Linked DNA regions of Homo sapiens. The protein of the gene in region 1 interacts with the protein of each later gene in a pairwise test. Each region holds a gene or a part of one and is shown on either strand. Other genes may lie near its edges. The genes, in order: SRMS and SKAP2.

The links.
Region 2: the proteins of SRMS (region 1) and SKAP2 interact in a protein complementation assay, tested with the Homo sapiens proteins (one study listed by BioGRID).

Annotation. Positions count from the first base shown.
Region 1 is NC_000020.11:63,541,352-63,545,048, reverse strand, and holds part of SRMS (tyrosine-protein kinase Srms), read left to right. Parts: intron 1-700; coding exon 701-822; intron 823-1,568; coding exon 1,569-1,735; intron 1,736-2,467; coding exon 2,468-2,609; intron 2,610-2,727; coding exon 2,728-2,886; intron 2,887-3,428; coding exon 3,429-3,610; intron 3,611-3,697. UniProt on the Homo sapiens protein: Non-receptor tyrosine-protein kinase which phosphorylates DOK1 on tyrosine residues. Also phosphorylates KHDRBS1/SAM68 and VIM on tyrosine residues. Phosphorylation of KHDRBS1 is EGF-dependent. Phosphorylates OTUB1, promoting deubiquitination of RPTOR.
Region 2 is NC_000007.14:26,854,484-26,858,300, reverse strand, and holds part of SKAP2 (src kinase-associated phosphoprotein 2), read left to right. Parts: intron 1-577; exon of another isoform or gene 578-850; intron 851-3,410; coding exon 3,411-3,516; intron 3,517-3,817. UniProt on the Homo sapiens protein: May be involved in B-cell and macrophage adhesion processes. In B-cells, may act by coupling the B-cell receptor (BCR) to integrin activation. May play a role in src signaling pathway.

The DNA.
Region 1 (3,697 bases):
TCTCACCTGCACCTGGCTTTTCCGAGGGGGTGTCTGTGCGAACAGACGCCAGTGGGCTTAGGGCCGTCCTGTACTGGGCACAACTCTCCAGCATGGGATGCAGGATGCTTTGAACGTTCGCACAGCAACCCCCCTGCAGCCGCCCACTGGCTGCCCCTCCTGACCTCCTGCACAGCCTGGCTTAGGCTGCCTCCTCAGGACACAGCTTGCATGGGCCCCCTCCACTAACCAACTGCCTGAGGCAGGTGGGCCGTGCCCAGCCAGGTGATGCCCATGGCCCTGTACAGCCACGACAGCCCAGCAGTGCTTCCGGGCAGCTCACCAGGCCGTCAGCTCCATGTCTGTGCAGGGGCTCAGCGAAGCCGAGTTTGGAGGCCTATGGCCCATGGCCAGGGCTGACTGTTAACCTGTGGCTGGGGCTGGCGGTCACTATGAACAGGGAACTGGAGGTCACGCCCAGCAGGGCTAACGGAGAGCCCACGGCCAACGTGAGGATGCTCAGGGCTGAGCAGGAGGATGAGGCCGGCACTGGGGGCTGAGGCAGTGCAGACCTTGAGCTGGGACTCAAAGTCCACGGGGTGGACCTTCTCCCTGAGGCGGTGGGACAGCCGGGCTCAGCCCTGCCGGCAACACGGAGGAGAGCATGTGGGGCCACTGGCTGAGGGGCCTGCAAGGTGACTGCCGCACCTGCTGTTTGCAGCTGGTACTTTAGCGGGGTCAGTCGGACCCAGGCACAGCAGCTGCTCCTCTCCCCACCCAACGAACCAGGGGCCTTCCTCATCCGGCCCAGCGAGAGCAGCCTCGGGGGCTACTCACTGTCAGGTACCTGGGGCGGCCCCTCCTGCCTCTGTCCCCCACCAGGTCAGTGGCCCTTGACCTTGGGGTGGTTGGTCTCTAGGCAGTGCTGGCTCCTGATTCACACCCGGCGCCACTGAGGGCCCAACAGCAGATATGCTGGTCACCTCCTGCACTTGCTAACTCACCCATTTATTCATTCATTCAGTCATTCACCCACTCATTCATTCAGTCACTCATTCACTTGTTCATTCATTCCTCACTAATTCACTCATTCATTCATTCATCCATTCATCTCATTCACTCGTTCATTCCTCACTCACTAATTCACTCATTCATTCATCCATTCATCCACTCATTCACTCGTTCATTCGTCACTCACTAATTCACTCATTTATTCACTGATTTGTTCACTAGCTTATTCTTTCACTCATTTGCTTATTCGTTCATTCATTCATTCACTTTTCCTTCTTTCCTTCCTTATTCCTTCATTCATTCACTGACTCATGGACTCATTCATTCTACAAGTATTTATTAAGTGCCTACTCTGTGCACACCGTCAGCAGAAAAGCTCCAACCTGGGCCGCTCTCGCTGCCCCGCCCCAGCCTGTGGCTGCCCACACTCCCTCCTCCACACAGCTCTGACCATCTCAGGGTCCCCAGCTAGGTCTGAGCCAGACCCCTTAGTGGGTTGTGGCCAGCATCCTCTGGGGTGGGAGGGTCGGGGCAGCTGGCAGCCAAGGCAGGGGTCTCCATCTCTGAACCCTTCCTAGTCCGGGCCCAGGCCAAGGTCTGCCACTACCGGGTCTCCATGGCAGCTGATGGCAGCCTCTACCTGCAGAAGGGACGGCTCTTTCCCGGCCTGGAGGAGCTGCTCACCTACTACAAGGCCAACTGGAAGCTGATCCAGAACCCCCTGCTGCAGCCCTGCATGCCCCAGGTGGGCCTGTGCCTGCCAAGCTGCCCCATGCTGGGCCCGAGGCATGGCCCTGTTCTAGGTGCTCCTCCCCACCCCGTCACAAAACCCCTGGGGCTGTCAGAGGCGCAGCTCCAGGGCCCTGCCCAGGCCTGGGAGCATCGGAGCATCCCAGCGGTTCCAGCACATTCTGCTCTCTGCGGGTGCCTCTGAGGGTTGTTGGGATTCCTGGGGTCCTAGGGGGCTGGGAGTGGGGAAAGGAGACCTGTAGCAGTGCCCAGCTCTGCAGGGGAGCAGCCAGGAGGGTGGGGCCAGTTTGGGGAAGGCACTCAAGGCTGCCCCAGGCCCCAAGGGCGGAAGGTGTGGGAGGAGAGGCAGATCACAAGATGCTGCACCTGGGCTGGAGACACTGGATCCCGGGGACTGTCCCCGATGTGAGCCACCCTGCCGAGGGCCAGGGCAGCAGTCTGGTTTCTCTGGTCTCATAATGACAGCGCGGCCAGGGGCAGTAATGAGCATGTGTAGACGGATATCCGGCTGGGGCAAAGGTGCCACTTAGGCCCCCAGAGCAATGAGCTCCCACGGGGCTGGGCCGGGCCTCCAAGCCTGGCACCCACTCCCCTTTGTCCCAGCCAGGGTGGGGTGAGTGTGTGCTGGGGACAGGGGTGCCCGCCAGAGGCCTGGTGTGGGGGGCTGTGCCTGGGACAGAGCACAGGGGCCCACGCTGACCAGCCTCCCTGCCCACCCTCCCTGCAGAAGGCCCCGAGGCAGGACGTGTGGGAGCGGCCACACTCCGAATTCGCCCTTGGGAGGAAGCTGGGTGAAGGCTACTTTGGGGAGGTGTGGGAAGGCCTGTGGCTGGGCTCCCTGCCCGTGGCGATCAAGGTCATCAAGTCAGGTGAGGCCCCGAGATCCTGCGCCACGGCCGGGCCCCGCACCTGCTGTCCAACCCTCAAGCCCCAGGGCAGTGATGTTCGTGGCGTGGGCCGGTCCTGGAGCCACACCCTCTCTCGCAGCCAACATGAAGCTCACTGACCTCGCCAAGGAGATCCAGACACTGAAGGGCCTGCGGCACGAGCGGCTCATCCGGCTGCACGCAGTGTGCTCGGGCGGGGAGCCTGTGTACATCGTCACGGAACTCATGCGCAAGGGGAACCTGCAGGCCTTCCTGGGCAGTGAGTCCCCTCCCTGCTGCCACGTGGCCCTGACGCGCCTGCGACCGCCCCTTCCCTCCTGGCGCAGAGCTGAACCTGCGGGGTTTCCGAGGTGAACCGGGCCTCTCTACCGGGAGCAGGTGGCCCCGGCTGCAGATCCCATCCCTGTCTGGTCTCCAGCCAACAGGGGGCTGGCGTCAGGTCTGGGCCAGGCCAGAGCCTTGTGGCTCCGGGGCTGGAGCTGGTGTTCGGGGGCGGTGGGGGGCGCGGTCCCATCTGGGTCACCAGCCTTGGTCTAATGTGACATAGACCCAGCCCAGCCTCTGGCTCTTCTCTGCCCTGGTCTTTGTCGGGGGCCTGGGCCGGCTGCCGGGTCACTGTGGTGAGTACAGGACCCTCGCCCTGTCTCACTTGGGGCTTCCCGTGGCCTTAGCCGGCCATGCCATCCTCGCCACGTCTTAGAGATGAGGAGGCTGAGGCATGGGGGAAGGTGACGTGGGTGGACGCTGGCCTCACCGGCCGTTGGCCCCGTGCCCTAAAAGACCCCGCGCTGTCTCCTGCAGCCCCCGAGGGCCGGGCCCTGCGTCTGCCGCCACTCCTGGGCTTTGCCTGCCAGGTGGCTGAGGGCATGAGCTACCTGGAGGAGCAGCGCGTTGTGCACCGGGACTTGGCCGCCCGGAACGTGCTCGTGGACGACGGCCTGGCCTGCAAGGTGGCTGACTTCGGCCTGGCCCGGCTGCTCAAGGTCAGCGGAGGCTCTGGGCCCCTGACCCAGAGGGGGTGGGTGAGGGGACCCCGGTCCACCTGCCCTACCAGGGGCCTTCCCTCGCCC
Region 2 (3,817 bases), on another chromosome or scaffold:
CTGATGACTTGGGCTGGGGTGGAGGCTGATGGAGATAGGGGTAATTCTGGGGTTAAATGCAAGCAGTGTAGACTCTGCAGTCTATTTGGCTGCCGGCCCGGAGGCAGGAGATGGGGGTGGGTGGGGGTAGTTAGACCTGGTAGTTAAACCCTTTCCCGCGGGCGCAGAGTGGGCCTCCCACGCTTCTCTCCCGTGGCCAGTATGCGTGAGAGTGTGAGTTGAGCCCCTGCCTCCGAGGAAGAATTCTAAAAACCGGGCTAAGGGTCGAGCGAGGGAGGCTGACCTTTTCTTGTTATCAAATTACTGCGTTTCCCTGAATTACGGGCACTCAGGAATGGTGAAATCTACATATTAACCGAGGAACACGACCCTCAAAGGAAGGTAGAAGAAGGCTAACGCTCTTGCTAGTTTACTGTGCTTGCTAGTTTACCGTTTGCAGGGCTATTTAGAGCACAATAAGAAGCTTCAAATCTCTTCTCCAACCAGCCAGAGGAACACTTGATTCGCCCAAGACTCTTATTGCTTGCTTTTGAAATATTACCCTGGCTCTGAGCTACAAAGCCACAGATCCAGCCCCATTTGTCTAGTGAGGGCTCTGCCCCAGACCCGGCTCTCCATGCTCACTGCTCCGCCTGAGAGGAACCCTGGGGTTTAACGCTGAAGTGCGTTTCTCAGAGGGCAGAGCTGGAGCATCTCGCAGCCCTACAACTTCTTTGCGGCGCTTGGTCTGTCTTTGCGTTGCGAGATCAGGATCGGTGTGTTGCTCAGACACCGGCCGAACGCCACCGGCACGTCTAGGAGTCTCCTGTGCCTGGAAGAGGCTGGTTTCATTCGATTCTAAAAGAAACGGGTAAAGTGTAGATTTTAAGAAATAACCTAGATTTCAAAAGCTTAAAAACCAACCAAGTTTGGTTGTGGACAGTCAACAAACTAAAATTATTTCGGGAACTGCTTCCAGTTTAAAGTTTTTTTTTTTTTTTTTTTTTTTTTAAGCAAAGCAGTTTCTACTCTCTCCACATCACCTTTGAGAAATAATCACGAAAAAGTCACTGTTTATTAAATAATTTTAGTTGCTTTAAACCTTTTCTGGGAAAAGCTTAGGAATAAGTATATTAAAAAAGGCTACTCTAAAAAAAAAAAAAAAAAGACCATACCCAATCTCTGAATTTCTGGCATCCTTGAAAAATACCGATTCTTCCTACAGTCCCACACTCTTTCAAAAAAAACTTTGTCATAAAATAGTAACATGGATCAGTATTTTAAAAACATGTTTGGGGGCGTTAGAGGGCACTATGTAGAGTGTTTATTGCAGCCTTTTTTTTTTTTTTCTGAATTTTTATAAAACTGAAATGACCTTTTAAAGAAAAAAACTCTTGGGGGCAATTCATTGTTATTACTTCCAGTGATAGAAAATAGATTGTTTGTTTAAACTTGGATTGTATAATGAAAATATAAAATAGGCAATTAAATACTCATGGAAGAGGAAATCAAAGGCAAACATTGAGTGAAAATAACATTAAGCAGACTATTCCCCAGTCATTGGGCCAGTGATTCTTCCTATTGAGTCTGGTTGGAAGACGAATCAGCAGTAGGGATGTTGCTTCTTCCCTTATTCCACTTTCTTGCAAAAGTTACTGTAATGATCTCAGGGGAGCCAGTGATCTTTTCCATTTCAGCTAATATCGAAATATCCAAAGGTTGCTTGCTGTTCTGGGCACAAAATTTAAAGCTTTTAGAGCAACATGCTTCTTCATAAGTTTTGTTATTTTGAATTCACTTTAGAAGTCTGTGTCTAATTTGCACTGGTACTAGATTATGTCTCTATGTCCCCCACATCAAAATATAACTCAAAGAAAGAGAAGCTGTGACATTTGCTTTCATTTCATTTTCATACTTTTTTTTAACACATTAGTTGTTAATATAACTCAAGGAAAGGGAAGCTGTGACATTTGCTTTCATTTCATTTTGATACTTATTTTTTAATACATCAGTTGTTAATATAACTCAAGGAAAGAGAAGCTGTGACATTTGCTTTCATTTCATTTTGATACTTAAATTTTTAACACATTAGTCGTTAATAGACTTCAAACCATAAGCTATTTTTTTTAAATTATTACAGTATTCTTAATTATTTTACTTGTCATATTGACTTAGTGAAAAATTACCTGTACACATTTATTATGAATGTATAAAAGTTTAATTGGCTTTCCTCATTGGATCAAGATACTTTTGTAATCAAGAATTACAAACATTCTATCACATATACTAGGTTTTAAATGGTTAATTGTAAGTACAGTTGAAAGATTATTAGATTATTATACTACTTTGAACTATTTATACGTAATATTGTTTTGATGCTATACAAAGTAGTTAAGGAAAAAGAAAGTAAAACACAAATCCCTTCCATATGAAATAATCAATGATTTATAGCCATGCCTACTTAAACATCTTTAATGATATCCTCCATATTAGATATTTCAAAATGAGGTGTGAAATTCTGAAAATAAAATTAAAATTGCACAGTATTTCATGAATAATAAGAATGGAACTAGTATAAAAATTAAACCTGTAAGGACTTGTTGGAATTTTACACTAGAGAGACCCAGACAGCACCGTAATTTAGAAGTTTACTAAAATTAAAAAAAGAGGCTATGAGGGAATGTTACATGAAGCCACAGAAATCTTGTTTCTTGGTGACTATATTTTTATATAGTGGAAGAACTTATGTTTGTACTTCTTCCTTAAGAAATATTTCAGGTGGTAATACCAAGGCAAGAAGCAAGAGCTCACAAAACTACACAGCTGGTTATCTTTTTTATTTGAGGGTAGTCAGAATGAGTGTGTAGGTAGGAAGAAGGAGGGCTTGATTTGGGAATCTTGGCTAGAAAAGTGGATTTACTTTTTCCTTTAAAGCATTACATGTTGGATATACCTGAAAATTGATTATACTAGGGAAAACAGACCCTTGCCAGAGACATTAGCTTGTATTGACATAATAATATGAATGACATTTTCACACAGGAACTTACAAAATACTAGAAAATGATATTAACACATGCTTAAAAGCTTGGTGCTTGCTTCCATATAAAGAATTTGTTTTATGGGGCACCATAGTTTATTAAAACTTGGTGTGTGCTTCTTCCTTGTTTAATGATGCCAAACATCCAAATAGTATTTGCTGTGGTAAGCATAAGTAGAACTTACAAATTTTATTAGCTAAGTGGTGATCAGATTTGTTCAACTTAGTATTTGAAACACACTTCAACTGTTATGCTTTGGAATGATAAATAACTATAACAAATTGTACAGGTATTAACACTTATATGTAGAAACAATCATTGTCCTATTTATCTTCACAAAACCTTTATTTCTTATAATTTGTATCCTGTTTCTTATATTGCATGGTTTAGATGTTGAAACATTTGTAGCAGATATACTGAAAGGAGAAAATTTATCCAAGAAAGCAAAGGAAAAGAGAGAATCCCTTATTAAGAAGATAAAAGATGTAAAGTCTATGTAAGTCACTTACCTTTTGTTTACTGATTTCTTACATAGAAGCAGTTTTGTAACTAACATTTTAATAAGAAATCGATTATTATGGAGTTAAATTTTTCATGTTCCAGTTTAACTGATGTTAAGTATTTTTGAAGGGCAAAAAATATATTTCCACTATATAGTTTTTAAACACAGATATGCTTATCATAGTACCCTTCTTGATTATGTATTTTTCTGAGCATTCTAGCAGAGTTCAGCTGTTTATTTTGATTATCTGAGGGTATATTTGGTTTAAATGATAAGACAAAGGTGGATTGAGGAC